2 linked regions of the Homo sapiens genome follow. The protein of the gene in region 2 interacts with the protein of the main gene of each other region in a biochemical or structural test. Each region holds a gene or a part of one and is shown on either strand. Other genes may lie near its edges.

What was found. Proteins that work in one complex are often made in the same cells at the same time.
Region 1: the proteins of AMOT (region 2) and CDH11 form a complex in vitro, tested with the Homo sapiens proteins (one study listed by BioGRID).

What each region holds. Positions count from the first base shown.
Region 1 is NC_000016.10:64,993,064-65,000,101, forward strand, and holds part of CDH11 (cadherin-11 isoform 1 preproprotein), read right to left. Parts: intron 5,794-7,038; coding exon 5,499-5,793; intron 1-5,498. UniProt on the Homo sapiens protein: Cadherins are calcium-dependent cell adhesion proteins. They preferentially interact with themselves in a homophilic manner in connecting cells; cadherins may thus contribute to the sorting of heterogeneous cell types.
Region 2 is NC_000023.11:112,774,819-112,781,856, forward strand, and holds the end of AMOT (angiomotin), read right to left. Parts: intron 6,301-7,038; coding exon 6,068-6,300; intron 5,971-6,067; exon of another isoform or gene 5,900-5,970; intron 4,863-5,899; coding exon 4,179-4,862; intron 3,847-4,178; coding exon 3,749-3,846; 3' UTR 59-3,748; downstream 1-58.

The DNA of each region.
Region 1 (7,038 bases), on a different chromosome or scaffold from region 2:
ATCTCCTCAGATTTTCAAATTATGTTCTTGTTTACAAAGTTTTATTCTAAAATTAACCCTGAAGAAGGCACCACAATTATTCAACATTCTCTCATTTTCCTGGAGTTGAGATGCAAAATAACCAGCCAACCAACCTTCCTTCCTTCCTTCCTTCCTTCCTTCCTTCCTTCCTGCTCTATAAAAATGGCCACAGTTTAAAAATGAACTTTCTGTATTTATAGTACATCCTACATTGGTTGGTGATTAAAATAATATTATAAATATTATTGCAAAAATATCTTACAACTCATGCACTTGAAATGTTCAGTATATCAAATAATTACATTAAAATCTTCCCAGAGTATAATAAATGATAATTAACGATAAATTGCTTTCAGGAAAGGACAGAGTGCAATCTTCCATCTGTAGCAGAACAATAAATACATCATTTTATTGTTGCTTTGCATGTAATAAAATTGCTGCTAATTCTACAATTTAATTAATTTATGGCCATAAATACTGAGCAGAATGCTGTTCCCTACTGGCATGAAAATTGCATCTTCCCACCTGTAGCTGGTCTGGTAGCCATATAACAGAAATCACCAGTAAACATCTGGTGAGAGGTAAGGGAAGCATTCATGGGTCAGAACGAAGGGAAACCAGGAAATTGAAGAAAGATGGGGTTCTGCTTTTCCTAAAAACAACCTTTGTTCCTGGCTGGTCACAAATAGCAAGTATCTGGGGCATGGCATGTTGGGCTTCAGAGTGGGGAGAGAGGAGCTGGAAGAAGAAAACCAGTAATTATCGAATTTCTCTGTGCCAGCATGATCTGGGGGCACATTCCATGTATTTTGCCAGCATTCCTCTGCTGGGCATTTTTTACATCTACTGTATTAGTGAGAAATTGAACTTGAGATATATGAAGCTTTGTAATCTATTTCACAAAGTTGGTAATTGCCAAAGTCTAACCCCAATCCAGCACACAACAAAACTCAAGTTATTTCTGTAACATTTTCAGCAGAGGGGCAAGGTTCTATGTGGGAGGCAAGGGAGCCAGTTTACACAGCCTATCACTACCTTTAATTTATAGGATTGTCAGTGATTTTTGTGTGGTGTACATCTCACTTTTTTCTAGTTACTCTTCTATAATTCATTATTTCATAGAAACAATCTCTTTGGAGCTCTTCCCATTTGTCAGTCACTATTCTAGGCAGGATAGATTTATAAAGGAAAATACCATCATGGTGTGGCTAGGGAAATTATTAATTTTAAATGCTTAATTTCCTTCTAGAACTCTGCTACATCCTTTACAATGGTTTTGTATTTCACATCTATTTCATTTAACCTTCAACATAGTTTATATTATCCTCATTTTATAGATGGCAAAATAAAAACTTAGAAAGGTATAATAGGTTGCCTGGGTTCGTAAGGCTGATTAGGAGTACAGCCATGATTCATAGTACTGTCTGACAACAACGACTGTACTGTCATATGCCATAATACAATGTCTGAGTTCTCAAAATAATAAGAGCAATCCATGACAAAGCCACATCCAGCATCACACTGAATGAGCAAAAGCTGGAAGCATTCTCCTTCAGAGCAGGAATAAGACAAGGATGCCCACTCTCACCAGTCCTATTCAACATAGTACTGGAAGTCCTAATCAGAGCAATGAGGCAAGAGCAAGAAATAAAAGACATCGAAATAGGAAAAGAAGAAGTCAAATTATTTCTCTTCACTAATGATATGATTCTATACCTAGAAAACTCTAAAGACTCTGCCAAAAGGCTCTTAGAACTGATCAACAACTTCAGTGAAGCTTCAGAATACAAAATCAAGGTACAAAAGTCAACGGCATTTCTATACATCAATAACACTCAAGCTGAGGACCAAATCAAGAATACAGTGCGATTCACAAGGGCCACAAAACAATAAAATCCTAGGAATACATCTAACCAAGGAGGTAAATGATCTGTACAAGGAGAATTTCGAAACACTGCTGAAAGAAATCATAGATGACACAAACAAATGGAATATTGATCCTTTCAATGATATTGATTCTTTCAACCCATGAGCATAGAATGTTTTCCCATTTGATATCATTAAAATGGCTACACTGCCCAAAGCAATCTACTGATTCAATGCTATTTCTATCAAACTAGCAACATCATTTTTTCACAGAATTAGAAAAAAAAACTGTTCTAAGACTCATATGGAACCAAAAAAGAGCCCGAATAGTCAAAGCAATCCTAAGCAAAAAGAAAAAAGTTGGAGGAGTCACCTTACCCAACTTCAAGCTATACTACAAGGCTACAGTAACCAAAATAGCATGTTGCTGGTGCAAAAACAGACACATAGACCAGTGGAACAGAATAGAGAACCCAGAAATAAAGCCACACACCTACAGCCATCTGATCATCAACAAAGTTGACAAAATTAAGCAATGAGGAAAGTACTCCTTAATCAATAAATAATGCTGGGATAGCTGGCTAGCCTCATGCAGAAGAGTGAAACTGGACCCCTACCTTTCCCCATATACAAAAATTAACTCAGGATGAATTAAAGATTTAAATGTAAGACCTCAAACTATAAATGCCCTAGAGAAAAAAACCCAGGAAACACCATTCTGGACATTGGCCTTGGGAGAGAATTTATGACTAGGTCCTCAAAAGAAATTGCAACAAAAATAAAAATTGACAAGCAGGACCTAATTACACTAAAGAGCTTCTGCACAACAAAGGGAAACTATAAACAGAGTAAAGAGACAACCTACAGAATGGGAGAAAATATTCACAAACTACACACCCAACAAAGGTCTAGTATCCAGAATCTATAAGGAATTTAAACAATTCAACAAGTAAAAAAACAATGTGGGCAAAAGTGGGCAAAAGACATGGATGGACACTTAGCAAAAGAAGATATGCAAATGGCTTACAAATATAAAAAAATTGGTCGTCATTAAACATCAGAGAAATGTAAATGAAACCCATAATGAGAAACCATCTCCCACTAGTTAGAATAGCTATGATTAAAAAGTCAAAAAATAACATGCTGGTGAGGATGTGGAGAAAAGGGAACACATATACACTGCTGGTTGGAATGTACATTAGGTCACTCTGAAAAGCAATTTGGAGAAGTCTCAAAAAAAACAGAATTACAATTCAAGGCTGGGCACGGTGGCTTATGCCTGTAATCCTAGCACTTTGGGAGGACGAGGTGAGCAGATCACCTGAGGTCTGGAGTTCCAGATCAGCCTGGCCAACATGGCAAAACCCCTGTGTACTAAAAATACAAAAAAATTAGCCAGTGTGGTGGCAGGCGCCTGTAATCCCAGCTACTCAGGAGGCTGAGGCAGGAGAATCGTTTGAACCCAGGAGGCAGAGATTGCAGTGAGCCGAGATCGTGCCACTGCACTGCAGCCTGGGCAACAGAGCGAGACTCTGTCTCAGAAAAAAAAAAAAAAAAGTATTACAATTCAACCCAGCAATCCCATTACTCTTTATAGACCCAAAGGAAAATAAATCGTTCTACAAGAAAAACGCCTGCACTTGTATATTTATTGCAGCACTATTCACAATAGCGAAGACATGGAGTCAACCAAGGTGCCCATCAACAGTGGATTGGATAAAGAATATGTGGTGTATATGTACCATGGAATACTATGCATGGTGGCATGAATAATATCATGCCTTTGCATCAACACGGATGCAGCTGGAGGCCATTATCCTGAGCAAATTGACACAGGAACAGAAAACCAAATACCACATGCTTTCATTTATAACTGGAGGTATAAATGAACCCAATGTTTACCCAGTGGGAATAATAAACACAGGATTACTAGAGTGGAGCCAGAGGACAAGTGCCGAAATCTGTTGGTTACTCTGTTCACTACCTGAGTGATGGGGTCATTCATACCACAAACCTCAGTGTTACACAGTATATTCATGTATATTCACTCAATAAACCTGCACATGGGCCGGGCACGGTGGCTCACGTCTGTAATCTCAGCACTTTGGGAGGCTGAGGTGGGTGGATCACTTGAGGTCAGGAGTTCAAGACCAGCCTGAACAACATGTGAAACCCCGTCCGTAATAAAAATACAAAGAAATTAGCCGGGCGTGGTGGCGCGCTCCTGTAATCCCAGTTACTCAGAAGGCTGAGGCAGGAGAATTGCTTGAAGCCGGGAGACAGAGGTTGTAGTGAGCCAAGATGGCATTACGGCACTCCAGCCTGAGTAACAGAGGGAGACTCTGTCTCAAAATAAATAAATAAATAAATAAATAAATAAATAAATAAACAAACCTGCACATGTACCCCCTGAATCTAAAATAAAAGTTGAAACTAAAAAAAAAAAAAAAGCCTGAATTTTATCCCTAAACATCAATGAGCCCGCAAAGGTGAGAATAATGAAAATTTTCCTGGATTATATATTTTGATGATTTGCCTTTCCACCCCATCCCCACCCTTGACACTCAGTTGCTGACACTGCTGTTTCCTCTGTATGGATTTATTTGATATTTGTTGTTTCTCATTATAATACACAGGCTAAACACCAAGAGGCTGAAGGACTGGGCAGGGAAAATGGAAGAGACAAAGGTGGGAAATGGTTCAGGCTGGCTTTTGATAAGTACTTGACTTTTCCTGGTGGAGAAGGAATATACCATTTTCTGGCATAAAAAGCTCTGTATGCACAGTGGAAGGATCTTAGCGTTCTAGAGTCAAACCTATCTTTCTTAAGTAGGTTGATTCCTATACTTGCTGGATTTTCTCATCTGTAAAATGTTCCTGAATTCATTTGAGCTCTAAAACTCTTTTAAGCAGACTCACTCCCTGATTAGAACAGTTCTACTCACTGTTTGAAAGACAAACCTTTCTTAATATGAGGAATGTTTCTCAAAAGAAACATTATGCAAATGTTTCATTATGTGCATGTTATAAAGAAGGCTATTGCCAGAAGGTGGCTAATTCTTTGAATAAATCCTTTAAAAAATTATCCTTTAGCAACTTAATGTGTCTTCAAGCATGTTGAAAAGATATACGTACTTCTGAACATAGTGACATAGTGCTGTGGTTAAATGTGCATTTTAGATCCATTTAATAGCTCAAATGTCCCTACAGAAATTAGTTAGCTTGTTTCTGGCATGGGTTTCCTATCTGTGAAATACGGTGAGTTGGAATTACCTCATTGTAAAGATTAATCATTGCAAAAGCTAAATAAAATAGTGCATGTAAGTCATTAATTAGCACAATGTCTACAGGCAACAGATATTACCAGTGTCATTACCTATTAGACATCAATACGCACTAGCGACTGGATGTATATTATCTCTATTCCTACAAGACTAGAAATTGTTATTCCCATTTTACAGAGGAACAAAAGAATTTTTGTTCCTTTTGTTATTTTGCCATAAAAGATAAAGAAGAAGCTCTACTTCCTGATTTGGGAGAACGGGCTTCAGCCCACCCACCACAGAGACACCAGGCCTGGAAGCAGAGCAGGCCTCCCACACCGTACGCACCCACATTGGACCTCTCAGGCACGTTGGCATGATAGGTCTCGTGCAGGAACTCCGGAGGGTTGTCATTAATGTCCTGGACCTTGACAATGAATTCCGACGGTGGCTCCAGTGGCCGATTGGTGTCCCTGTCCACCGCCTGAGCCATCAACGTGTACTGGGCTCTCTCTTCTCGATCCAACGTCTTGGTGGCATGAATGTTCCCTGATTTGTCATCAATCACAAAAATGGTTCCAGCTCCTTCCCCTGAGAGAATGTATTTAATGTTCCCATCACCAGAGTCAATATCTGAATGAAGCTGGAAGAAAGAGAAATTGAGATTTTTAATTCCATGAGGAAAGCAGTGGGGAAACTCACTTACAAGTGATTGCAACAATCTGCTGCGCACACACACACGTCATGAAAGGGAGATGTTCTCATCTCCATTTTACAACAGGAGAAAGGCAATCTTAGAGAATATCATAGCCTTGGCCAAGGTCACACTGCAGAACAGTGAAGCCAGAGTTCAAATATATATATTTTTAATTCTAAGATTCATGCTCTCCTTTCACCTCTCTCCATATATATGCGCATATGCAAAATATAAAAACCTAAACGTATCTGTCAATAGTTTGAAATAAATGTATGTTTATTTTTAAAAATATATAAGCAAACATTCATGCAATAAGTAAGTCTTCCTCTCAGCTCTGACTCCCATTCCTTCATTTTCTCCTCTGTTCAGAGACAATCACTGTAACCAGTTTCTTGTGAATCCTATAAGAGATATTCTATTCTATGCATATGCAAGGAAATCTACACAGATACATATGTACCCTAGTTTATTGTTATACAATAAAGTTCCAGAGTACACACATCATTCTTCACTTCATCCTTTTCCTCTAACAATAAATTCAGGTGACTATTCCACATTTATAACTATAGATCTTCCTCATCTACTGTATGGAGGTTATTATTTTTTAAAAAATTTTTTGTTTTGGGTTTTTCTTTTTTTTTGAGGTGGAGTCTCACTCTGTTGCCCAGGCTGGAGCGCAATGGCATGATCTCGGCTCACTGCAGCCTCTGCCTCCCATGTTCAAGCGATTTCTCCTAAATCAGCCTCCCAAGTAGCTGGGATTACAGGCACATGCTACCATACCCAGCTCATTTTTGTATTTTTAGTAGAGACAGGGTTTTACCATGTTTCCCAGGCTGGTCTCGAACCCCTGACCTCAAGTGATCTGCCTGCCTTGGCCTCCCAAAGTGCTGGGATTACACACATGAGCCACCATGCCTGGCCAATGTTTTTGTTTGTTTGTTGTTCGTTTTAGCAGTCCTTTCTAAAGAACACTTAGCTTGTTTCCTGGCTTTTGTTACTACAAACAATTCAACTTATCAGACCTTTCCAGAAGACCTGCTTTGCGGTACACAGGGTATGAGGATCTGGGGATGTGGCCTGCCTGGAAGAAGTGTCCATTCTAATGCTAAAGGTAGGTAGGACTAGTGGCATGGGTTGATATGTATACAATTTCTTAGGTGTCAGAAAGAATCTTAAACATCCCCAAGT
Region 2 (7,038 bases):
GATACAGCACAAATAAAGCCTCTGTCGGGTAAACACCAAAGCATTTTCCACACGGTACTGCATTTTAAAATAGCTAACTTTATTGTCAGTGAAAAGATAGGCACAAAGTGGATTTAAACCTGCTTAACTTTATTGGAACTAGCTCAGTTGATTACAGAATGGGGTCACAATCATTAGGGGACCACATACATTTTAAACCAAAGGCGATTCTTCTCTAGCCATCTGCCAACCCCAGCTATCCATTTTACAAACACATGCCATTAATCACAAGGGAGGCCAGAAGGAGGTTTCATGGCTCCATGTAACCCATCGTTGCTACTGGAAAAAAATAAACAAACTCCCGACACTTGTCCTACTGATGATGGATGGCACTTGGAAGACATATTTCCAAGAATCGTGGCAGGCTGAAATTGGTGGCAATTAGCCCACAGCTGATACCTTCCTTTGAAAACATTTTCAGTAAGAATGCACACGTTTTAAGTAACATATTCCATATGCACATAAGCAATTGAGATAATAGGAGACTGTGTAGCTAACAGATATGAGAATATAATTGATCAAAGTTAGTGCATATGTATACACTTTAAGCTGCCGCATTATGAGGGTTTAGGCTTGTCATAAAAAGTAGTTTGCACAATCAATCAGTTTGTTCATTTTCCAATTGTTATACCCACCCAACAGTGTAACAACAAAAAGAGAACATGATGGGTCTCTGGGTATCTTTCCTATGGCAGATGATGGCAGATATTTTAGGTTCCTGCTGTCCTATTACCTTGAAGCTCAAAAGCAGCATTAAAAGGAAATCCTTCATTAAATCAACAATCAAGATACATGATTTTAAAAGAAAGCTCAAGCTACTTTTTATTTCAAAAAAAGACTGTTAATAGGAGTTTCATATCAAGTAAAGTTTGTTCTAATGAAGTTTTTCTATACATGGAACACTGGGGTACAACTGAATTAGAAGGTCCTCAGAGATCACCAAGCAGTACAAGCTAAGACAACCTGGTCACCCTCCTTTCCTGAGGTGCCGGTAAAATGCACAGATAGGTAGGAGTCCAGAAAGATCCCCCAAATGTTATATCCACACAACTGTGAAAAGGTGGCTAATTGAGATTTCTCCCATAAACTTGAATTTTTGGAACAAAAACTAGTGGAGATCTTCTGAAAAGGCTGTATCTATCTTCTGCATAATATACTGACATACTCTTCTTCCCTCTCTTGGATGTACAATGTTATTTTAGCAAATTATCGGGGATTGGAAACTGAACAGAGAAGAACTGTCTCTGGTGTGAGAGGGTTCTGGAAAGTTCAAAATAGTACTCAGCCAAGAACTTCTTCCTTTCCCCAAAACACATGAGTCTAAAGAGATGGCTACCACACAATGTGGAATGTATGACATTTGTCACCTTGCAGAATGTGATTAAAATCATGGCTCCCAGAGCCAGCAAAAAGTCTGCCAATGTGTTATAACCATGAAAGGAGTAGGTGAAAAGTGTTTTTTAAATTATTTGGATAGAAAGTAGCTCTCCTGAAGTTTGCTACTTGCTGCTTCTACTATTTGAGTGTTTTTTTCTCCTTATGACTAAAGGGTAGTATGAAAGAGTCTTAACACAACTGCACTTTTAATTTCTATCTGAGATTCACTTTATAACTGAGGACTAATGTGTATGTAACATGATTACCTCATTATTGAAAATGTGAAAGGACTAGCTGAAAATCACATCACCCTCCTTTATGTCTCTACACACACACAGGCACACACACAAAATAATTCCTTTGGAAGATAATTAGGAAGGATACCATTCCTATACTCACAGAGGAACCCCAAAAGATTATCTAAGATACCCAATCTCCTAGAAAGAAGTGGGATTGGTTTCTCAGGGGGACATTTATGTGACTCTATGTTGAAATGCAGATCAGAAAAGGGAAAACCTTTTAAAAGGCACTGAAGGAGAGGCAAGACAGAAATTCAGTAGTTTGTCAAGACTGGACAAGCTACTCCAACCAGGTACATTTTACAAGATACATATTCCCTGGACCATGAAGATGCCTTTTCATAAAATGGAATTTAAAAAAGATAAAGAGTTTCCCAAAATAAGCATGGTGATTGGCATAATGGTTAGCTGTGTTGTATGACTTTCAAAAAGTCACTGAACCTCTCCAGTTCTCAGATTCCTCATCACTAAAATGAGGAGGTAGGGCTATATTGCTAAAGTTCTTTCCCACCACTATGGCTCATGATGTAATATATCAGGCCTACTCTTCTATTAATCTGGTTTCTAACTAAGACATCCCAAAACCTCTACCCCCAACCCTTACCTAACACCCCCCACTTCCCTCACCCTCCCTATACCCCTTAAAACTGATCTTAATGATGCTATCTGCAGATTTCTCACCTTAATGAAGGGCAGACAGGTGACACAGGGCAGGGACCTGTGGCAACTGGCATCCTTCTGTGTCCTTGGAGGCAGCCCTATGGCAAGGCTTGGAGCCATTGCCTCCTTTGATCTCTACCCACATGCACATTTCCTGCTGCTTCCCAAAGGTATTCCAAGATGGTGTCACTGACAGTGAGAAGAGGTAGTTGAGGATACTGCTGCAATCCACCTCTCCCCCGACTGCAGCATAGTACTTTGGGTTTCTCAAGCTATTCCCTTGGAGGTGATAGTCAAAAATGCCTTTTAAGACATATGCTTAGAATTTGACAAACAAAACAAGTTATTTCAAAGTAGTCACCAGAAATTCAAAGCATTCAACCTGTCAACAAAGATCCTTCCTCACTTTGCAAATGATTGGCAATTTGAGACTGGAGACCCAGCCAGTGAATCTGTGCTGTAGAAGAAATAAACACTAAGCTGATTGGTCTTACTAAATGCAAGCAAGCTGTGTTCATGGCTACACACAAACCATGGAAGTCTGCATATAGCACCCCATGCAACTCTCCATCAAGGCCTCTGATGGTCTAATTCCCTAAGAGAGAGGAAGTTGCGCATCACTCAGTTAATGTACTCTCCCAGCATCTGAAAGCAATATATTAATTATCCAAATGCATAAATTACTCCAGAGCATATATATGAATGTATGAACCTCCAGGAGGGAACCAAAAGAATCCATTTCCAAAGCACCACTGAAATGAAGACAAACACAATTCCCTGGGGCAGGGTAGCTGGGAAACTGGAAGAAAAAATTAGCTCCAGTACCCTTCTGCACCCCAAAACTCCCTACCTTTTTTCCAGCTTACATAGCTCCTGAAACTATTCCCTTTTGTAAGCCTGAGGTGAGTGCTTTCTCCAGCTGCTGCACAGGATAGTAACTATACAAAACAGCACACACTCAATTCTCTCTAGCTTCCCACTTCCAAACTACGTGTTATACACTGTCTTCCACACATACTGTGCTCTTCAATAAAAAATGATCTAGAATATGGAAAATTTAAACAAATTTAAGCACATTGAAAACGTCGATGTATAGCCACCTGTTAACAGTCCCAGTATTCGTATAAATTCAAACAATAAGCTTTAGAGCACATTCTGATTAATCTGTCTTTAGAGGTACTCCCTAAGCATACCAAAATAGACTGGTGTTCACATGGTATTACTCAAGTAGTACATTGTTCCAATAAAAAGTCCTGTTAAAAAACATCCCCTCCCCACAACCCTTGTCCTCACCCTCAAAACAAGAACCAATAAAAGGGGGAAAATGATTAAAAGCATTTTTGCTGATAATCTGCAGCTCTTGATTTGGCCGTTTAGATGAGATATTCCACCATCTCTGCATCAGGCTCTTGTCCCAGGATCTGAATGGGAGTTTTTCTTTCCAGAGTATTGGAGTGGAACACAGGCCCATCTAAATGGAAATAAGGGTTAGAAAACACTTAGGGATGAAGAAAAAACCCATATTTCTAGAACCAGACACCATCAGAGCCCTCATGAAGCCAATGGCAAAGTGAGACTTGCCTGCCACCTCCCTCATTTACTTCTGCTAAGATAATGGCCTCTACTCATGCCTGTTCCCATCTTGGTGGATGAGAAGTCATTTACAGACTCTCTTCTCTCTCCTTTAGAACGTGAAAAACTCAGTCCAAATGATAACTCTGCCCAGACATCAGACAACAAGAAATAAATCTGTATTTGAGAGCAGAACTAAACCAAAACCTACCTGCTAAAGGGAATAATTACCTGTTTTGTCTGGATTGCAGGTCAAACTTGGTATAGACAAACGATGTGGTCCAGGACCGGTAGCTGGACTTGCAGGAACCTCAGCCTGAGCCACAGCTGGAGTTGGAGTTGGAGCTGGAGTTGGAGCCACAGCCGGAGCTGAAGTTGGTGCCTGAGTCTGAGCAGGAGCAGAAGCCTGAGCCGCTGCTGGAGCTGGAACCGGAACCAGAGCCGGAGCTGGAACTGGAGCCGGAGCAGCTGGAGCAACCTGAACAGCAGCAGCAGCAGCAGCAGAAGGAGCAACGGCAGCAGCTGAGGCAACAGAGGCAGCAGCTGGAATCTGACCAGCAGCAGCTGGAGAAACAGCAGCAGCAGTAGCAGCGGCAGTGGCTGGAGACGGGGCAGCAGCAGCAGCTGGAGCAGCAGCAGCAGCAACAGCAACTGGAGCAGCAGCTACCATGGTGGTGGTGATGGTGGCAGCAGTGGCAGTGATGGCGGCAGCAGTGGCGGCAGCAGCAACTGGAGCAGGAACAGAGATGGGAGCAACAGCTGCAGTTTTGTTCGATTCCGTCCCACGTTCAGTTTGGGTACTGCAGTCTCGGCTGCCTGTCTTGGAGTGAGCCGAGAGCAGGGGAGTCGAGGGTGGCACAGGCGAGGGTGTGGAAGGGACATATTCAGCACGGTAGTCTCCACCCAGGAGAATGCCTACAAATGAAAGAGGAACAGATGTTAGAAAACAATAGGTGATTCAAATCCAGACATCTAATTACCTGTTCTCCCATTCAAATTTCAGAAGAAATTTATTTATTTTTAAATAAGTAAATATTATTTAAATATTTAAAATATTATTATTTTTAAATATTAAATAATTTAGAATAGTCTAAGTTATTTATTTTTGCCTCCAGGGAACCCAGAAATCAGTGTGTGAGGCTCCTCCAACCATGGCTAAAAGTTTCCTACAGACTTCGAGGATCCCTTCTGGTCCTCATCCATCACCTGGCACAACATATTAAGCCTGTAAGTGACCTGGGTATCTGTTTTGATTTATTTTTCCAATGGTGATTGGGTTCCACCAAGTTGTCAGAATGCTCCTACTCGGCTCCACTTATAAACCATTACCACACGTTACCAGGGAGCAAGAAAGGATCTGGGGAAGAAGTCTGTTGACACAGATTGAGTGTGGTAATAATTGTGTGATCTGAGGTTCTCACCATGACCATAGTCCCCAAAATGCTTATTCTAACCAAAAGATATTACAAGTATCAGAGGACCAAGAAAGGAATTAACAGCAACAAAAAGGGTTAAAATAAAAATATATATAAGCTTCCTTCCTCGGGCTCTAAAAATGTGCCTCGTGGTATCCACAATATGTCTGGGGTTTTGATTAGAGGGGAGGGAATGGACAGGAACGGAATGAAAAAGTACATTCTGTTCTCATCTCACAACACTGTGGGAACAAAACCTGCTACCCAAACGATTTAGTGTAACTAAAACTCTGGGTTCTCCTATTATAGAGGAGGAAGGAACACAGAAATGCCGGAATTTTGACATTTGGAACGACACAAAGGCCACATGGGCTTTGGAGAAAGATAAAGGTGCCACATGGCAAAGGCCAAATCTGAGAATAGTTTAGAGGAAATTAGAGTTATCTTCCTTGACACCCAAATGAAACTCAAGATTCTTGTCCTCTAAGCCTTGGCCTCAATCGGTATTCTCACCGGGAGACTTCAAAGTGTGGAGGAGCTCCAGAATGTGGAACTAGGGTCTCAGGAGGAAAAAAAAACTCCAAAACCCTGGTACACCTTCCTCTCTAGAACCTGGACCATCATCCCTTTTCCTTAAGCATGGGTGCTTATCTCAGGGCTCTCTTTGAACACGTGACTATAATCTTCCTTATTTACTGTCATTACCTAGGCTCCCCTTCCAGCTCTTGTCGTCTCGCTTTTCTTCCATGATGGGGGAGCCAGTCAGGGTGGATGAGTGGGAGAGCAAGCCTGATCCAGCATTGGAAATGGACATCAGAGACTTCGCTGGCCGCATGCACGACAGCTGCTCTGTCTTGCTCGGCTCCTTCCGGGAACGCTGCTGGAGTACTTTGATCATGGCATCCTTCTCAATAATCTGGGCATGGAGGGTCTTAATCCTAGGAGCCAAAGGCAAAGAACATATAAAGACCTTGTTGTGGGCTGGGCGCGGTGGCTTACGCCTGTAATCCCAGCATTTTGGGAGGCCGAGGTGGGCGGATTGCAAAGTCAGGAGTTCGAGACCAGCCTGGCCAACATGGTGAAACCCTGTCTCTACTAAAAACACAAAAATTAGCTGGGTGTGGTGGCAGGCGCCTATAGTCCCAGCTACTCGGGAGGCCGAGGCAGGAGAATCACTTTAACTTGGGAGGCGGAGGTTGCAGTGAGCCAAGATAGTGCCACTGCACTCCAGCCTGGGTGACAGAGCAAGACTGACTCCATCTCAAAAAAAAAAAAAAAAAAAAAAAAACCTTCTTGCTACCTCCACATTTTGGTCTAATTGACTACATGACTACGTGGAGCTCCCATTATCTTTTCGACTAAAGGCTGATCTAGTTAGTTCTGAGTTGGAAAACAAGGGATGGTGTGCTACAGTTTTTAAAACATGTTTTTTCTTTTTTCTGCACACCCAAATGGATACAGCAGAGCATCCAGGAGCTGTTGCTTAAATCTTAGTAAGTCACAATAAAGTACCAGTGAAAAAAAAGGCTGAATATGAGAGAATGAACTGATGTACTAGGTGCTGTAGTGAAGAATCTCAGTCAATGGAAACAATTTACTCAGTGAGAAGATGAGATCTATGAATGAGCGACAACCTGCAGGTAGTAAGTAAATGATCATGTGTTTATAAAAGGAAT